Regions from separate parts of the Homo sapiens genome. Here all the other regions are linked to region 1. Evidence: fine-mapped expression QTL. A gene starts in region 1. Each other region holds a variant in brackets. All regions are shown on one strand. Distances are between the middles of the regions.

What was found. PIP is the estimated chance that this variant, and not a neighbour inherited with it, causes the effect.
Region 2: its variant is the best candidate, but not a certain one, in a credible set for the expression of FASTKD2 in whole blood (INTERVAL, PIP 0.70).
Region 3: its variant is the best candidate, but not a certain one, in a credible set for the expression of FASTKD2 in whole blood (TOPMed, PIP 0.67).

What each region holds. Positions count from the first base shown.
Region 1 is chr2:206,763,287-206,769,328 of GRCh38, reverse strand. It overlaps FASTKD2 (FAST kinase domains 2), which reads right to left and starts at 3,723. Exons shown (of 12, transcript NM_001136193.2): 1 at 3,582-3,723; 2 at 1,859-2,685. The coding sequence starts at 2,635. MDH1B (malate dehydrogenase 1B) reads left to right here and starts at 4,001. Exons shown (of 12, transcript NM_001039845.3): 1 at 4,001-4,079. The coding sequence starts at 4,058. RefSeq lists enhancers at 3,453-3,832, 4,083-4,222.
Region 2 is chr2:206,845,770-206,851,811 of GRCh38, reverse strand. No RefSeq gene overlaps it. Among named protein-coding and RNA genes, the nearest start is that of MIR3130-1, 65 kb to the right of the region's middle. The variant T/C (reference allele first, on the strand shown) is at 3,165.
Region 3 is chr2:206,788,028-206,794,069 of GRCh38, reverse strand. It overlaps FASTKD2 (FAST kinase domains 2), which reads right to left. Exons shown (of 12, transcript NM_001136193.2): 9 at 5,915-6,042; 10 at 5,167-5,251; 11 at 3,384-3,498; 12 at 1-2,387. The coding sequence ends at 2,268. Among named protein-coding and RNA genes, the nearest start is that of MIR3130-1, 7.7 kb to the right of the region's middle. The variant T/C (reference allele first, on the strand shown) is at 2,383.

The DNA.
Region 1 (6,042 bases):
TGAATCACAAAGTCTTAAGTCAGAACCAGGTAATAATAAGAAATGGTTATGGTTAGAAGAAAAAAAAGGTTTCTTTCCTATGAAAGGGTTTCCTTAACAATTTTACAGCATTCCATCCATATCTACTATGAAAGAAAAGACCACTTGTCTATGTGTTTGAAGGGCAAATTCATTGATGGCACACTGTCCTTTCACCTCTAAAATGTCTTTACATTATTCCAACAGGTCAGTGAGACACCATCATCCATACAGATGTTTTGACTACAAAAATCTACTACTCATACCTCACCAACACAGATGTCATCCCGATGCAAATATCTGTCCAAAATCTAGTAAGAGCATCACTGACCAGGTAAGGTGATTTATTAGTCACTTTTAAATAACTACATAGGAACTAATACACAGCCTACAAATAAACAGGGATATTCTGTGGTTTAAACAAATACACACACATACACTAAATAAAAATTAGTTATTCCTTAAGGACATATGGAAATCACAGTAATGTAAAAAGTTAAAAACTTTCCCATAGCTATGAACCCAATTATTGAATTCTATAGCAAGACAGGATATATGCCAGATTATCCCCAAGGAATTCCTGTCTTTTAAAAAATTATTATTATTATTTTCAGACAGGGTCTGGCTCTGTCACCCAGGCTGGAGTGCAGTGGCACGATCATGGCTCACGGCAGCTTCGACCTCCCAGGCTCAAGTGATATTCCCACCTCAGCCTCCCAAGTAGCTGGGACCACAGGCAAGTACATCACACCCAGCTAATTTTTGTATTTTTTGTAGAGATGGAGTCTCCCTTTGTTGCCCAGGCTGGTCGCAAACTCCTGGGCTCAAGAGATCCTCCTGCCTTGGCCTCCCAAAGTGCTGGGATTACAGGTGTGAGCCACCACACCTGGCTAAGAAATTACTTCATTATCACTGAGTTTATACGTCAGAAGTGTACACTCTTAAAACATAAATGATTAACAAGCTAATCCTTCCTTCCTTACATTTGGCACCATTTCAGTGACATTAAACAGGACACTGACATTCTTGCTTTAGACTAAAAATGGCTCCCTCCATCCAATTTTAACCTTCTTCCAATACATCTTCCACTCATTCAGTGATCTAAAATACAAATTTGAGCACGTCAACCCATTGCTTAAAATTCTTCAACGGATTCCCATTGCCTACAGGATAAATGCATACTCCTTAGCTAGCCGTAAGAGGCTCTTTATGATTTGGTTCCTATTTTTCTGGCCTCTTGTTCTGCCCCTAAGCCTCTTGCCCCTCACTCCTCTCCTTTGATCGCCATGTACAAAACTTGTTCCCACCCACTCAAACATACAACTCCATCATTCTGTGCTTCAGCTACACCAAACTACTTTCAGCTCTTCAAATTTGCCAAACTTTTCCTCTGGGAACAGTAGGGCATGCAATCCTCTCTACTTGAAACACCATCCCCTTCACTATCATTCTGCTCATCAGTTTAGGTATCATCTACTGGGCCTGAATTCCAATTCTACCATGGACTAAATTCTCTTCCTTCCCCTTCCCTTCTCTCCTTCTTCAACTACCCAGGCTTTCTTTGTATATCTTGCATCTCTCCTCACTTTAGCTTCTTCACCACTACTCAACCCTGGGGATGGTAAATGTGGAAGGCTTTCATAAATTTCCATAGCAAAAGGAAGAAAATAGCTAACTTAAGGCCTCTAAATCATATAATATATATGCAGAAATAAATATAAAGGAAACTACCATTCCATTTGATAGTCTCTTTTAAGAAGGCTACATATCTATATCCCTTCATTCTTTCAAAATATTCTAAATCAAGTAAATGCATGTTTAAATCTCCTTTTTATTTTACCTGGGTCACCCTCAGCAAAGTCTGCACCAAAATAGTGTTCTGAGGGATTCCAAGCTTCACTATGGCGTGAAGACTGAACAGTAGGTACTTATACTGCATGATCTTGGCTTCTCTCATCATATGTTCACAGAGCTGATTAAATGCAGGGTGGCTAAACATCAGTCGTTTTTCAAAGCGCTTCTGGTCATCAGACAGTCTTTTGGCAATTGTCCACATTGCTGTGAAATAGTTGCTACTAGGAAATGTGGGCGCTTTTGAAAATGCATCTAACACATCACTCAGGGAATTACATTCCTCAGACAGTTTTCTACTGCTGATACGGTTTGGTTTTGTTTCCTTGGTAAGAACATCTTCATTGGAGACTTCATGATTAAGGTTTACTTTCTTCAATTCATCATCAGATTTATCAACAGGGACAAGAGACTGCTTTGAGTCAAAAAACAGTCTTTTAGCATAAAGTAGTCTTTCAATTCTAAGGGCTGTTAGAGTGCTTATGCCCTTTGTTTGAAAGCCAACATCTGATTTAAAAATGAATGCATCCTGAAAGAGATATCTAATGATATCAGTTGATTGCATTCTGTTATGAAAGTTATTTAAAATGTTCCAGTTTGAATGAACTATTTTTGGTTTGCAAAGTCCCAAACAACATAGCCTCATAGTTCTGCTTGTTGAAACTAATGTACTGAATTGTCTAAGGTTCCAGAAAAAGGAGCCCGCTTTGTTATTCATTTTGCTCTCCACTGAAACACTTCCAAATGGCTTCAAAGTTGTCAACATGAAACCAACGTCACTTCTACTAGTGAAAAAGAACACGTGCTGTCGTTTTCCTGTAGGGGAAGAAGTAATGAAAAGAATAAAAATTAAAACAAAACTTTTACTTAAAGAAATGAAATGCATTTAACAGAAGAGAAAATGGGGAACCTATGGAGCCATTAAACATTTACATAAAACAGTAAAAGTTTTTTTTACCAATGTGGGCTCCCTCCAATCTACCACAATGTGTCCAGTTTCAAAGAAGCCAGGTCACTTTGGAAGTAGTCATTGTATTAATGAGATTTTTCTGGTGCAAAAGCGTTCCATAAAGCTTTCTCTGTAGGAGAGACTTTTGTTGGCATTGTTATGGAAATGTCCTCGGTGAAAATTAGGGGATTAGCATTGATAGATCATTTTCTTTTCTCTTCTCTGTTTTTTTTTTTTTTTTTTTTTTTTTTGAGACAAAGTCTTGCTATGTCCCCCAGGCTAGAGTGCAGTGGCGCGATCTTGGCTCACTGCAACCTCCACCTCCCAGGTTCAAGCAATTCTCCTGTCTCAGCCTCCCAAGTAGCTGGGATTACAGGCGTATGCCACCACGCCCGGCTAATTTTTGTATTTTTTGTAAAGACGGAGTTTCACCATGTTGGCCAGGCTGGTCCTGAACTCCTGACCTCAGGTAATCCACCCGCCTCGGCCTCCCAAGGCGTGAGTCACCGCGCCCGGCTGATAGATCATTTTCAACATGACGATTTAGCAACGGCCGAACCCAGACCATCAAGAATAGGGACCTGGGCAGGTAGAACGGCTCAGTGGAAGAAGCAGAAAACGAAAGCGATGTCTGCACGTGGCCTGCGCTTAAGAGGAAGATCTTATACAACCAGCCAGCCTCACCAGACCCCAGAACCAACTTCAAGAGCCTGTCCTTCCGCAGCTGGGCCGCCCAGCATTAACCCACCTCCTTTAAACTTACTTCCAGGACAACTCGTGAGACTCTTCTCCTCGAAGTAAAAAGTCTAGGATGTGATACGGGCTGCCGCTAAGCCCAAGCTCGTCCTCCACTCACCTTAGAGCACAAGACCGTGACTACGTACAGGAGCAGCCATGACAGCTTCCCCGAGAAGCTGCGCTTCTCACGAGATCTTACGGATTCCCTCAAAGGTCAAAAAGCATATGTTCGCGGCTGTAGCTGAAGGACTTACTTGAAGAAAGTTTACCAAGGAGAATGACTAATTTCCCTGCATACAGGAGTGGGGCTCGGGGATACCACAGAGCTTATAAGGGCGATGTTTGATCGTGTATCGCAACGTAACCCATTCAGGTCCTAACTTTAAACACCTAACCTCTGCTGGGCGCCAGACTTTGTAGTGCGCCTGCGCCTTGCCCTTGGCTGCGTGGTTGCCAGGAAACCGCGAAGCCGCGGTCCCTGCCTCTGAGTCTCTCTCGACCATGGCCAAATTCGTCATCGCGGGTGAGTGATCCCCGCGTCCGCCCGCAGATTGCTCAAAACGCCGACAACAGCTCACCTCCCATGGCCGCTCGGCTTGGCAGCCTCTATACGGACCGCTCCATGCTTTGCTATAGATTTATTCAAAGTTTTTTACTGGACCGTGACGGTGCGCCAAGCATTGTGGGACACTGGGGATGCAATGGAGGGAAACATATCCCTGCCTTAGAGGAGCTTTCAGTCTCATGGGGCACAGAACATGTACTTTTGATACGGTGTGATTAACGCGATGAAGGAGACCTGCACAGGCCTCTGGGAGCGTAGACTCCTAATCTGGGTTTGGGGGATGAGGGAGAGGTGGACACAAGGAACTGGCTGGGGAAGGTATTACAGGAGCTGAGTTGTGAAGGTGTGAGCTGAGGAGGCTATTCCAAATAAAAGCAGAGAGGCAGGAAGCTTCCTGGCCTAACAGAAGATCTGGATATGTGGGGCGTGACAGGACCTGGGGCTACAACAGGAGCAGGAGCCAGGTCCTTGCATTTCATGTAGGTCAAGCAAAGGTGTTTGAACTGTATCCTGAAAGCAATGAGGAATTATAGAAAAATTTTAAGCAGGAGAGTAGTCTTAATGAGTTTGCATTTTAGGAAGCCTGTCTTGGCAGCAACGGAGAGAATGATTGAAAGTGCTGGTTGACAGCAAGGACTCAACTGAGAAGGCTTTTATTACAACAATCCATGGTACCTACCTCCTCTCCTCGTAAAGTTTCTTAAAAGAGTAGACTGCTCTTCCATCTCCAGTTCTGCCTTCCAATCAGTCTTGGAAGAAGGCTTCTACTTCTGCTTCCTGACAGAAACTGCTGTCACCAAAGTCACCACTGACTTTTATAGAAGCTGTTTAGTCTTTGACTTATTTGATCTCTTTGATGCATTGAACACAATTGACATCTACCATCCACAGGAGATTTTTTTTTTTTTTTGAGACAGGCTCTCACTTTGTCACCCAGGCTGGATTGCAGTGGTGCAATCGTGGCTCACAGCAGCTTTGACCTCCTGGGCTCAAGCGATCCTCCCACCTCAGCCTCCCAAGTAGCTGGGACTACAGGCATACACCAGCATGCCCAGCTAATTTTTGTATTTTTGTAGAGATGGGGTTTTGTCATGTTGCCCACGCTGGTCTTGAACTCCTACGCTCAAGTGATTTGCCCACCTTGACCTCCCAAAGTGCCAAGATTACAGGCATGCACCACCACACCTGGCCCAGAAGAATATTTTTGAACACTGACTAACCACATGGTGGGAAGTCAGTGGAAAACACACAGAGAATGTTGCATGTATGACACTGACAGGGCAGGGTTCTATAGGAACGATAGCAGGGACCTTACTTAATCAGGTAAGGGTTTCCCAGAGGGAGAGATTTTAAGCAGATACCTGAAAGATGATAATGAATTACCTAACAGAGAAGAGGTAGAAAGGAGGGGAGCAATTTAGGCATGGGTAACTGGGAGTGGGGTTAGAGCAAGGAGAACTAGTTTGGTGACAATTGAGAATATAAAATAAGTATAAAATTGAAATAAGTTTATTAGGACTGAAGCAAATAGTACAAGGAAGAGAATTTCATAAGGTGAGGCTAGAGTTAGATAATGTAGATTCTTTTGAGCCACATTCAGTAGTTTAGACTTTATCCAGAGTACATGAAAGGTTTTTAGAAGGGGAGGAGGGCCTAATCAAATCTGAATTTTATCTGAATGTTACGGCTATAGTGTGGGACAAAAAGACTGGATACCAAGAAACCAGTTAGGAGACTAGTGCTATAGTCCAGGAGGGAGTTGATTGTGACCTGGCCTAGAGTGGCAAACAATGGAGATGGAGAGAAGTGAATGGATTGGAGAGATATTAGGGAGGCAGAATCTATAGAACTGGATGTCTAATTGACTGGAGGAGGGCAGATAAGGGAGAAAAAGGAGTTAAACATTGTTCCCAAGCAGAGG
Region 2 (6,042 bases), 82 kb before region 1:
TAAGCCAGAGTGGGCACATGCAGGCCCTTCTATTGGCAGTCCCACTTGAGCCAAGTTTTCTAGCCATCTCCAACAACATATGAGTGAAGCCATCTGGGGCCCTTAAAACCAGTCATTCTTCAGCCACATGCTGCCAAGTGAACCCATTAATGCCATATGGAACATAAGAATCACCCAGCCAAACACTGCCCAAATTCCTGACCAATAAAATGTTGAAATGTAATAAAAACTGTTTTTGTTTTAAGCCACAAAGTAGCAGTTGTTTGTTGCAAAGCAATATATGCCGAGAACACCCTCTAAGAGAGTTTTTAAGCTTATGGGCACAATCCGTGAAAGGGACATGAAGTCAGCTTACTGGATAATGACCAGAATTTGTTTTAACTAATGAAATAGGAAAGAATAAAATAAAAAATACCAGAATACATGGTACACAGCAAAGGTATTGTTGTAAGACACATTTCCAGTTATATATACATATGTATGTGTACCTTGGGTTCCAATGTAGTTTTCACTGTGAATTGTAATCAAAATCATTTAAGAAACATTGTATTAAAACATCTAAATTTATCATGAGAATATCCAGGAAATTGTTTATAAAGATTAGCAGACAATACATCAAAGGGGAAGGTCTATAGACATTTCCTAAGCTTTTAATTCACAGAGACATGAATCAATGCCATTTGCTCATCATAATTCATAGAAGCTTGTACTATCTCCATGTGTTCTTATAGCAATTTTTGCCATAATGTTTAGATATGGTAACTAGAATATCTGAGTCATAGTGCTTTACACTAATATGTATAAAACATTATGTTTTGAAAATAAAATATTTTCTACTATTTATTCTGACAGAGCATTCTAAAAACTAGAATAATGAACTCAGAGCCTCATTTTTATTGGTTCCTGCCCAATAACAAATTCTTGACCGGATTGAACTTCACATTTGAATTCTCTTCACTCTTGTTGGACTGATAAGACTTCAATGTCGATGCTTATCAACTCAACTAACAAAAAGCTTCCTAAAGATGTGATGGCACACATATGAGATTACAGGGAGTTTATTTTTTGGTGTGAATTAAAGATTTGTGTCTTATTGTTTTATAATAAGTTACTATAACAACTGTAAGGGAAAGCCAAGCAGCATGTTCAATAGGCTGGATCATTTCTACCATCATTTCATTATCATCCTGTTGATTTTCTTTCTCTTCCCTAGTATGCACCTGGCAGAGGGACAATAGAATTTCCACCAGGTGACCTTTGGAATAGCATTGCATAGTTTAGCACTCCTGAAATTTTCTCTAAAGATAATTGTAGAAGTCAAAAAACTGGCTTTCTATCAGAAAATCTGGTTCCAAGTCTTTATTTCTCTCATTGACTGTGATTTTCATCAAGTCAACCTCTCTTTGGGCTATTACCTTACAGGTAAAACAGTAATAGCAATTCACACCCTTCAGGGTTTTTTTTTTTTTTTTTTTTTTTTTGAGAGAGAGAAATTATGTGATATTTTTCAAAGTTGGGCATGCCAGTTAGTAGTATGACACTTGGAGGGTATTTCAACCCAAACATAACCCAGCAGATGCTCATCAGGTACCTTTGAAGCCACACTGTGTGGTGAGCAATGAATAGAACAGGCACCATCCCCACCCTTGCAGAGCTCATGCCCAACTCTGAGAGAGAGGGTAAAGAAATAAATATATCAGTAAAATTGTACTGAGTGCTACAAAGCAGGGGTCCCCAACCCCTAGGCTGTGGACTGGTACCAGTCTGTGGCCTGTTGGAAACTGGGCCACATAGCAGGAGGTGAGCAGCAGGGGCAAGCATTACCACCTGAGCTCCACCTCCTGCCAGGTCAGCAGCAGCATTAGATTCTCATAGGAGCACAAACCCTACTGTGAACTGCACATGTGAGGGAGCTAGGCTGCACGCTCCATATGAGAATCTAATGCCTGATGATCTAAGGTGGAACAGTTTCATCCCAAAACCAACCCCCCCACTCCCTCATCCATGGAAAAATTGTCTTCCATGAAACTGGTCCCTGGTGCCAAAAAGGTTGAGGACCGCTGCTATAAAGGAATGAACAAGTTGTCCAGAGAGACAAAATGCCTCTGAGGAGGTGGCATGTAGGTTTAGTTCCCACAGACTGAAGCCAATGATTAAAAAGTAATCAAAGCCAGACTCCAGTGAGACCCAGAAAACATTCTGCTCCTGGGACAGGTGAGGTGTTTGATCTCCTCATCTAGGCCACATACAGAGGAAGGGTTTATACAACACACTTGACCTTTCTAGGTGGGACCTGGGGGAAGGGAGATGTATTTAAAACCCTGAAACTTCATGAAGCATGCCACCCATGCATGACATTATTTAGGAATCATGTGTGAAGAAGGACTGTATACATATTCTGTGATAAAGATATTGAGAGTACCAAATCTGTCTTCCTGGGGCAACCCCAAGCCATACCTCTGAGACCATGGCATGAGACTTTGCAGCTTCATTCCTTCATTCCATAAACCTTTATTTTGGGCCACACGCTATACATGCCCTGGCACAGAGCTAGTCCCTGGAGAAAGATAAAGGCACAGTCCCTGTCTTCTGGAGGCTGAGATCCTAGCCCTGAATGTACAAGTAAACAGAAACGCCCAGTGGAACACATCACAATGTAATGGAAGAAGTCAGCTCCAAGTGTGATCAAGGAGGGGAGTCACTCAAACTAGTGGGGACTGAAGTTGCAGAGAGGCTTCCAGACCAGACATGCTATAACAGTACAAGGCATGAGAGAGCACACCTGGTCAGTACATTACAGGTGGTTCCATACAGATGGAGCAGGACCTCTGCATTTTGGAAAACAAAGCAGAAAAATGGGTTGGTAGAGGAGGCTGAAGAGATGGGCCTCCAATTTCCTTCTAAGGATCTGAGATTATTCCCTAAAGGTTATGAATTACTAATAAATGAGTTTTTTAAATTTGTTTGTAGAGATAGGGTCTCGCTTTGTTGCTCAGGCTGGTCTCAAACTCGTAGTTTCATATGATCCTCCCGCCTTGGTCTCCTAAAGTGTTGGGATTACAGGCATGAGCCACTGTACCCAGCCTAATAAGTGGTTTTAAACAGGTAAGTGGTGCACCTCTTTTGCACCTCTGAGAAAATGTTACCATATTTTATATTTCATT[T/C]TTAGAATTTTACATACCAAAAAATGTATAAATCATAAGCTCAATGAATTAAAAATTATATTTTAGGGGAGATTTTGCTATTCTATAGTAATTTACAGTCAGATGGCTACTTTCTCATATTTTGGTGCAACAGGTGTTCATTTCTTTCTGTGAAGGCAAATTTATACTAAAGTTTCAACTAAAAATGAAGACATTATTCTGGCCTAAACAATGATAGAACAGTGTTAAATTACAACAAGTTGTACATCCAAGGGCTGTAAAGGAATTCCAGTAAGCAAGGAGGAATTTCCATTCCTAGGTGGGGTGTGGGTGTAGGTTCATTTTGGCAAGGGGTTTGGGGCACTCTGTGTAATGAGTGTGGGTAGGAAGGTATTTCAGGACGTGTATAGAAGGGAGGTCATCAAGGCAGAGAAGCCCACAAGAGGCAGGCTTGAAACGGATTACCTTGAGGACTTGGCACCCCTCTGGAAACCCGGCCCTCTTTGCTTCCATTCATTCTACTTCCCAGCAGCAGAAGTTAATGGACTCTACCAGGTTGGGGACCTAGTGTTGCTTTGCCTTGGCCTCTGCCTCTTCCGCCATCACCAAGCAACCCATTTTGCTCTAGGTATTTTTCCACTGCCTTTTAGGTTTGCCAATAAGTTCTGCTCACTTCGGACTCTAATTCATAACCTCGCTCTCATGGCTTCTGCAGCCTCATGATGTTTCTCTGCACATAAGCCTCGAGTCCTGCTACCATCTGCTACTGCTGCTGCTGCAAAAGACAGTGTCTGATGGGAGTGGTTTGTTCACTATCATTAACCTTGCTAGGCAGAGCCCTGTGCCAGGCCACCTCGCTAACTGCAGGCCAGCCTGCATTCTGGCCACCCTGGTGTCTCTCCTGGTCCAACACCTGGGCCAGAGCAACAGGATAGGTGAGGCAGAATACAGAGTTCCCCTACACAGAAAAAGACATGGGCTGCTCCCTAGACAGAGACTGTGAGCTTGAAGCTTTTCCTCCAAGTTGGGAATTGAGGCAGACACTATATTCATTTGTTTGCTACAATGGCAACCACCTACTTTAAAGGAGTTCTCTAGCAGCTCTAGAGCCCAAAACACACAGTGGGCTCTGTGGGAAGTCAGTGTAGACCAGAGGACTGCTTCAAAGGAAGGAGTAGAATGAATCTCATTACTGAACTTTTGCCCCTTTACAAGGCTTTGTCCACACAGCATCCCGAGTGAACCTTTAAAACAATGTGAATTGGATCATGTTTCTCCCCTGTGCAAAGCTTTCTCACTGTACTCTGAACACAAACTACCCTCCCCCACAGGGCCAATAGGCACTGCCTGATCAGACCCCTGCCTCCTGTTCAAGGTCAGCCTGGAATTCTTTCCCACTCTCCCTCCAAGCTTTAGCCATACTCACCTTCCTTCTGTTACTCAAACACTATAGCTCTTTTCTCAGCTCAGCTTATTGGCACTTGCTGTTCCTACCGCCTAGAACTCTCATCCTCCAGCTCCCATGTGATTGGACTTCTTCTCATCCTTTAAGCCTCATCCTTGAATGTCACTTTCCCAAAGAGATCTGCCCTGGCCTACCAAATCAGAAACTCTGGAGATAGGCCCAGCACACACTGAACTTGGAGAACCACCAGCCAAGAGAGCATATGGAAAGAATGACAGTATCAGCCAAGGAGATTCTGAGTTCTAAGGGACTTATGCATCACTGCAGATTTATTCAGATAAATAAATAACCTGTGTGTACATTTATGCATTGTTTAAGGGATAAGAGCTATAAAGAAAATAGAATAAAGCAAGGACTAGTGATGATAGTGTGCCATGAGCCTGAAGGTTCACAAAATTTCATTCATCTATTCATTCAACAGGGCTGTGGCAGCAGCCAGGTGCAACTGGGATTGGGTAGTCAGGGAAGGCAGCCTTCATTCCTGAATCTGCCTTGAGTTGGCACATGAATCAGAGGTGCCAGAGGATCTGGGGGAAGGGGGTTCAGGCAATGTCCTTGAAGCAGAAAAGAGTTTGGTGTGTTTGAAAAACGAAAAGGAGAGCAGCATGCTTAGAGCACAGGAGCCAGGCACGGGTGAGGAGAGAAAGATGAGTGCACAGAGCTAGGCACAGTCTAGAGAACAGGCCTGGCCATGGTGAATGGTTTGGATTTCAATCCCTTGCCATGGGCAGTCCCCAGAGTATTTTAAGCAGCCAGGTGGCATGAAGGGATTCTCAGTTTTGAAAGTTCACTTTGAGTGCTGCGTGGAGAATGGATCATGAGGGAAGGAGTGTAACTGAGAATCATGTAACATACTTTGGAGACTAGCAGCATGCCCAGCACTGCATCAAACCCTTTACAAGCATTAACTCACCAAATTCTATAACACCCCATGATGTAGATACTACTACTCACCCTGCTTTATGAGTGAGACAACTGAGGCACAGAAAGGTCAGTAACATTTCTTAGGTCACACAGTTGGTAAGTAGGAGCCAGGACTTAAATCCAGGCAGCATGAATTCAGAGGCTGAGTTCATAACCACCATGCTAAATAAAATAGGCATACTCTTCCTGCCTCCCTATGACAAAGGACAGCTTTGAGCTTAAAATAGTGTGCTCTAGTAAAGTGCTTTGAATATTAAGCAGGGTACTGTGTGAATTTAACAATGCCATTATATAGTATAAATATAACTCATTAAATAACATATAATGAATTGGCTCCTAATCTTCTGTATATTGTGGTTAAAAGCAACACTAACATTTGCAGCAAGGAAAACAATTAGCACATTCATTAAGTAGAGTCCTGCTCACACTTCACTCATTAACTTTAATCATCTATGAAATGTGTGAACTAAGCTAACCTGTCACCACCGGAGTCATCAGTGACTGTCAGTA
Region 3 (6,042 bases), 25 kb before region 1:
TGTCAATTATACTATAATAAAGCTATTTTTTAAATTATGGGAGAAGAAAACCCCACAAAGTACATTCCAGAAAGGTATTAATTTACAGTCTACCAACAGCTTATGCAAGTGCTTGCCTCATTATACCTTCATCAGCACTGTAATTCTTAAAAGAAAAAAAACTGCTAATTTGAAAGGCAAAACCATCTCTTCTGTTTCAATGTGCATGTCTTTACAAGTAGACTGAACTTTTTTCATGTTCATCAGCTCTTTGCCCATTTTTCTTTCATTGACACAAAGCAATGAAGAATGCTAACACTAGAATGCTAGTAAAAGAGGGATGCCTTTTTATCTGCCAGGTTAACTAGTACAAACTGAAAATTACTACCCTAAAAGGTGGTCATAAATATTCACAAATTTGTCAAATCCTTTGAAGAGGAGTCATAATTAGACACTCAAAACTGATGCACACTCAACATTTAAAGACAAAACCTTAGTTCCTTTAATAACAGAATATCTGCATCTTGTTCTGAAGCTTATAAGGTTAAATCACTTGGCCAAGTATACAAAACTAGAGGTTGTCCAATCTGGAACCAGAAGCCTGATCTCCTGGGACACAAGCTGAAGAGCAGGTGAGGATGAAATGATGTGGAACCAATGGCATAGCTGAGACTTCAGGAAAGGAAAATTCTTTGAGCCTTATCTTCCTCGTCCATAAAATGAGGGAAGTAACAATTAAATAATCACTAAATTTCCTTTCAGCTCTAACCTTTTCTAAATGCAAGCTGGATAAATTGATACAACCTGGCAGCTGTTGTCATATTGCTATAGTTTTTGTATTTTTTTTTTTTTTTTTTTTTTTTTTTTTTTGAGACAGAGTCTCGCTCTGTGGTCAGGCTGGAGTGCAGCAGGACCATCTTGGCTCACTGCAATCTCCACCTCCCGGGTTCAAGCGATTCCCCTGCCTCAGCCTCCCCAGTAGCTGGGATTATAGGCATGCACCACCATGCCCGGCTAATTTTTTGTATTTTAGTAGAGATGGGGTTTCACCGTGTTGGCCAGGATTGTCTTGACCTCCTGACCTCATGATCAGCCCACCTCGGCCTCCCAAGTGCTGGGATGACAAGCACGAGCCACCGTGCCCAGCCCAGTTTTTGTATTTTCTTATAAGCCTATGTTAGCTCACATTCAAACTCCAGCCCTCCCCTACTCTGTGTAGCCTTGGGCAAATACCTATCCTGATTTTAGAGATGAGGAAGTGAAGACACAGAGAGAATCATAATAGCAGCTACACCTCAAAGGGTTCAGATCATGAAAAGGCAGCACACAAATGAATACTTAGCAGTGCCCGGCACATACTAAGATGTCTAGTAATTGCATGTCTGTGTGCTTGGGGGCAGAATAACACCAACTTGCATGGAACCCATGCTGTAAGTTCCACAAGAGACCATGCCTATTCATCACTATATCCCCAGCGAGCCAAATACTAGGTAGACAGGCATATTGAACAAAATAGTTGAATTTGGACAAATATTTGAACAAAGAATGAACACACATAATCGAAAAAATAGTCCTCAGGTCTGATTCACAACACAATTCAGCTATATATTTAATTTAAAAGACTTCATGAAATTGTGGGAGGGGTAAGGGGGAAAAAAGAAAGAGAAAGGAAGGACCCCAACAACAGTAAGACTCCTTACCATCTACATCTCATCTGTGTTTCTCTTATTATAACCCATGAAATATCTCTACCTGCAGTGCTTATTACAAATACAAATACCATCCTCACTCATTTTCAACAGCTACCTCACTAATTCTTACACACTTGACAACTTTAGAACTTTGTCCAATTATTATTTGGCCAATGCTTGAAAATGATTTAAAGGCATAACCCCAAGTCTTAGAACAGCTTAGAGCAGGAGTATAAATATTCAGATTCCAAAGACAAGGACTACTACCCACATCAACCTGCCTGTGACACCTCACAACTAAGAAACCAGTTTTTAGTAGATCAAAGATGAAAAGGTGAAACGTACAGCTCACAAATCAAATATCTGGGCACTAGAGGGAATAGGTGTGGTTGGAAAAATAACCCTTCTGGAATTTTCTCAGCATATTTTTAAATGGCAGTAACAACATTTCTTCCACTCCTAAAATTAATTTTAATAGTGAACTGAGGTAACATTTTTTGTCTTAGCAGATAGCTCAATTCCATTGACAACTGACTTGTCATCTTTATTAATTTTTACAAATGCATGTCTCCTAATATGAAAAGGTTGATTTTCACTTTATTGTGTGCTTTGCACATTTACAGCAGCAACAGGAAGAGCTTCTACTGAATAGATTTTAGTCTTCAAAAATGTGACTGCATCTTCCATCTCTAGTTTGTCCATCTCCCAGTTA[T/C]TGACCTTACCAAAGAAAGAGGAAAATAATCAGTTTGTGAGACGATACTAACAAAAGAGCTAGTTTAGAGATCCAAACATAGTAAAGTAACATGAGGACAATAGCTTTTTGAAAGCAAATGTGACCTTATAACTACTCATATTTTAAAGGCATAATAAGACTACATGCTAGGGTTTAAGAAAGCTTTAACTGTGAAAATTATACAAATTTTAAAGGTCCTCTAAATGGTGCAAAAACTGCTTTCTTGAGAAAATCTTCCTTAGAATATATATAATCAGCAATATAAAAAACAAAGTCTTAAATAGTAGCCCACTAAGAGAAAGGAGTCATCTTAATCTCAATAGTCCACACGTAATCCATTTCCAATACTAAAGTATAATAATAGAAGACTTGGAATGTTTACATCTTACATTATGCGCAGGACCAAATGAGTGGCATTTAGATAGATTCCAACAGCAACATATATATAAATGTATTTGTAAGGTTCCTACTACCTAGAAACATCAGAAGAGGCTGTTCAAGAGAAGCTGTGGGGTACAAAATAAAATTGAAGCATAAGAGGGAAGAGAAAGACCCATCTTCTTAAAACCATCCAGCCTTTTCTGGCAACAAACATCCTGTAACAGCTTCACACAGGCCATGAAAACAAAGCTTTAACATCTTTCCTTCCCTTGTTCAAGATAACCTGGAAATTAAATATGGTTTTGTGTATCTTAAATATGAAAATATATTATTTGCATTCTTCTTCTTAGCAAAAAAGGATTAAAGCTGACCAGAACAACATTTGTAAAAGCTCTAGTAATGACAGTAATCAGCTGAGCAGAACCCAAATCGTGTACTAGCAATGTTCTTTTTCAAAGAAAACAGTAACTAAAGCACTCATTCCAATAATGCTGACAATTCCTCTAGTCCTAGTAACCAGTCTCAACCACAAGATTCCTGGCAGCTGTTAGAATGTACATCAGTAATTAAAGAATATTTCATTTGCATTTTTTTCTCACCAAGATCACATGAAAACCCATTGCATTCAAATGCCGCATTTTCATAGCAAGGAATCCTCTGGGGTGGCTTGAACCCAAACAATAAGCAGATCTGGAAACACATAGCACAGCTACTCTGAAAACAAAAATAAACAAAACAAGAACAGTTATTGATATTACTATTTAGTCTTGCTGCATTCTTGTTCTCTGGAGATTTCCAAGTTGAGCTCTCCACCGACCACAATCCTTGATATTCCTGTCTTAGTCCTTCACTTCTTTTACTTGGCCTCTGCAGATATTCCACTATACAAGGCTACTTTATAAATCAAAAATATACAACATTATACACAGTTACCTCTCAGTTCCCTTTAAGGATGGCTACATTTTTGAAGAGGAAAATTTTCAGACATGAAAGCACCAATTTTAAGGGTTTTCTGTGTAGTGCTGATTTCTGATCTGAGTATAATTATTTATTCTACCAGTAGTAGTAACGGTGTAAATAATACCAAATAGTAAATGCTCTTCTTACACATATCATCTCCCAGAGAAAGCAGCATTTAAAAAACAGAAATAGGAGTTTAAATACAAGAAAGAAAACACCAAGAGAAAGGCAAGACTGTTAAAATAAAATCTGTAAATATAACGAAAATGTGGAAGGTGTAATTTGTTTTTTCATTGTTCCTGGCACTTTGGAAATACTAAGTTTACTGGGAGAAAAAAAGAAAAAAAAAAGACATTTATATCCTTACTGCCTTCACCTATACTCTGGCTGTTATAAGACAAATTTTATGTTTTTAAAGGAATGCTCACATTCTTCACTTCTCATGACTTTATGCTGAGAACAACTGTTATTTTATTATGCCAGAATAGCGGAGTACCCGAAAAAGAAAACTGATCTTGGAATGAGGTCAGAGAGAAAGCCTCTTCTGAGGGGAGATGGGTAGCACTAATAGGAAAGACAGCGGTTGAAAAGATGGCCAAGAAATAAGCTAGATGCATTCAGAAAGAGGTGAAAGTCACAGAACTGTGTGTGAATGAAGAGGGATGGGCAGATAAGAGCTTGGATCCCTACAGATTTTTTTGTATGTTTCTATCATATTTATGTGTGTGTGTGTGTCCAGTGGAGTTAACAGAAGATACAAGTTCCTTGGGGTCAGGATCCATGTAGCAGAGCTTTTACATAAAGGGTAACTGACCCACGGGTGTGTGCAATGATGGCATGATCTTATGCATCTACTGAAGAGGCAGGATGTTCTCTCATGGTATAGCATCATATTTCTCCCCAGAGACACTCTATTTGTAATGTGTGAGCCAAAGAAACAACTTAGGATTAGCTTCAATGTGCTCTAACCCATACAAATACAGTTTAATTAAAAAACTACGGTTTCTCTACCTCTGGAAAAGTCTTGGTGGTAGAGCAAAATATTTATTGGGTATTTGATTTTTGTAGAAGCCTCGAGTCTTTATTCTTTATGATCACTATTATATTATCTTGTCCAAAGTCTACACTGCATTGATAGTTTCAATTATATTAATATTGTTTTATTGAACTATAGCTTCAAAACCTAATTTTAAAAAAATGTCTGTCTCATTAAATGACCAATACTGTAGTCCATTGTATTCAACCATAACGTCCACATTTACACTTTCTAAGGAGTACATTGATGGATGACAAGTCTCTTGGTGTGCTGCAGGCTCCATACAAACATCAAGTCTTAGATTTACTACTGCTATTTAATATGAAGTCTTTTAGAATTAGGATTTTAATTCAGAAAGCCCAGCAAATGAAATATATGTAAGCAACCTTTGAATATCTGTAGCAGAAGTTGTATCCACATCAGAAAGTGGTAGCACTTGATTCCTGTTAGTGTCCATTCTGATTTCAAAATCTGAAAGGAAAGAATTGATATTAATTTTTCAAACATTCCTCCAAGTGACTTTCTTTTTCTTTTCTTTTCCTTTTTTTTTTTTTTTTTGAGATGTGGTCTCGCTCTGTCATCCAGGCTGGAGTGCAGTAGTGTGATCTCAGCTCACTGCAGCAACTTCCCAGGTTCAAGCAATCCTTTTACCCCACCCTGTTGAGTAGCTGGGACTACAGGGGCATGCCATCACGCCCATCTAAGTTTTGTATTTTTTTGGTAGAGACAGGATTTTACCATTTGGTCAGGCTGGTCTTGAACTCCTGAGCTCCAGTGATCCACCTGCCTCGGCCTCTCCACATGCTAGGATTACAGGCGTGTGCCACCGTGACCAGCCCCAAGTGATTTTCTGTTTCAAAATGTTTAATAGTACTACCAATAATGATAATAGCAGTAGCTAAAATATATTGAGAGCTAACCATGTGTCAGATACTAGTCTTGGGATTTTAGACACATAAAAATGTGTAGAATTTCATTTATTGGTCACAAGAATTTTATGAGGCAAGAATCAGGCCAGTTCCAGAGGCAATGCTGCACTACACTAAACTGCTGCCACAAATACCTATTTTTTTGGTCAGAAAAAAAGGAAAATAAATACAATAAAATGAAAGGAAATCATATAATGTCCCATACCAATATGATAATTGTGTGGCAAGTGCACATCCTTTGAGAAGTGTCCTTCACCTCCCAGAAGGCTGCTCAGCACCTCTGCCACCTTTGCATTTGTATGTGACGATGGCAGCTCCCGCGGCAGCTGTGGG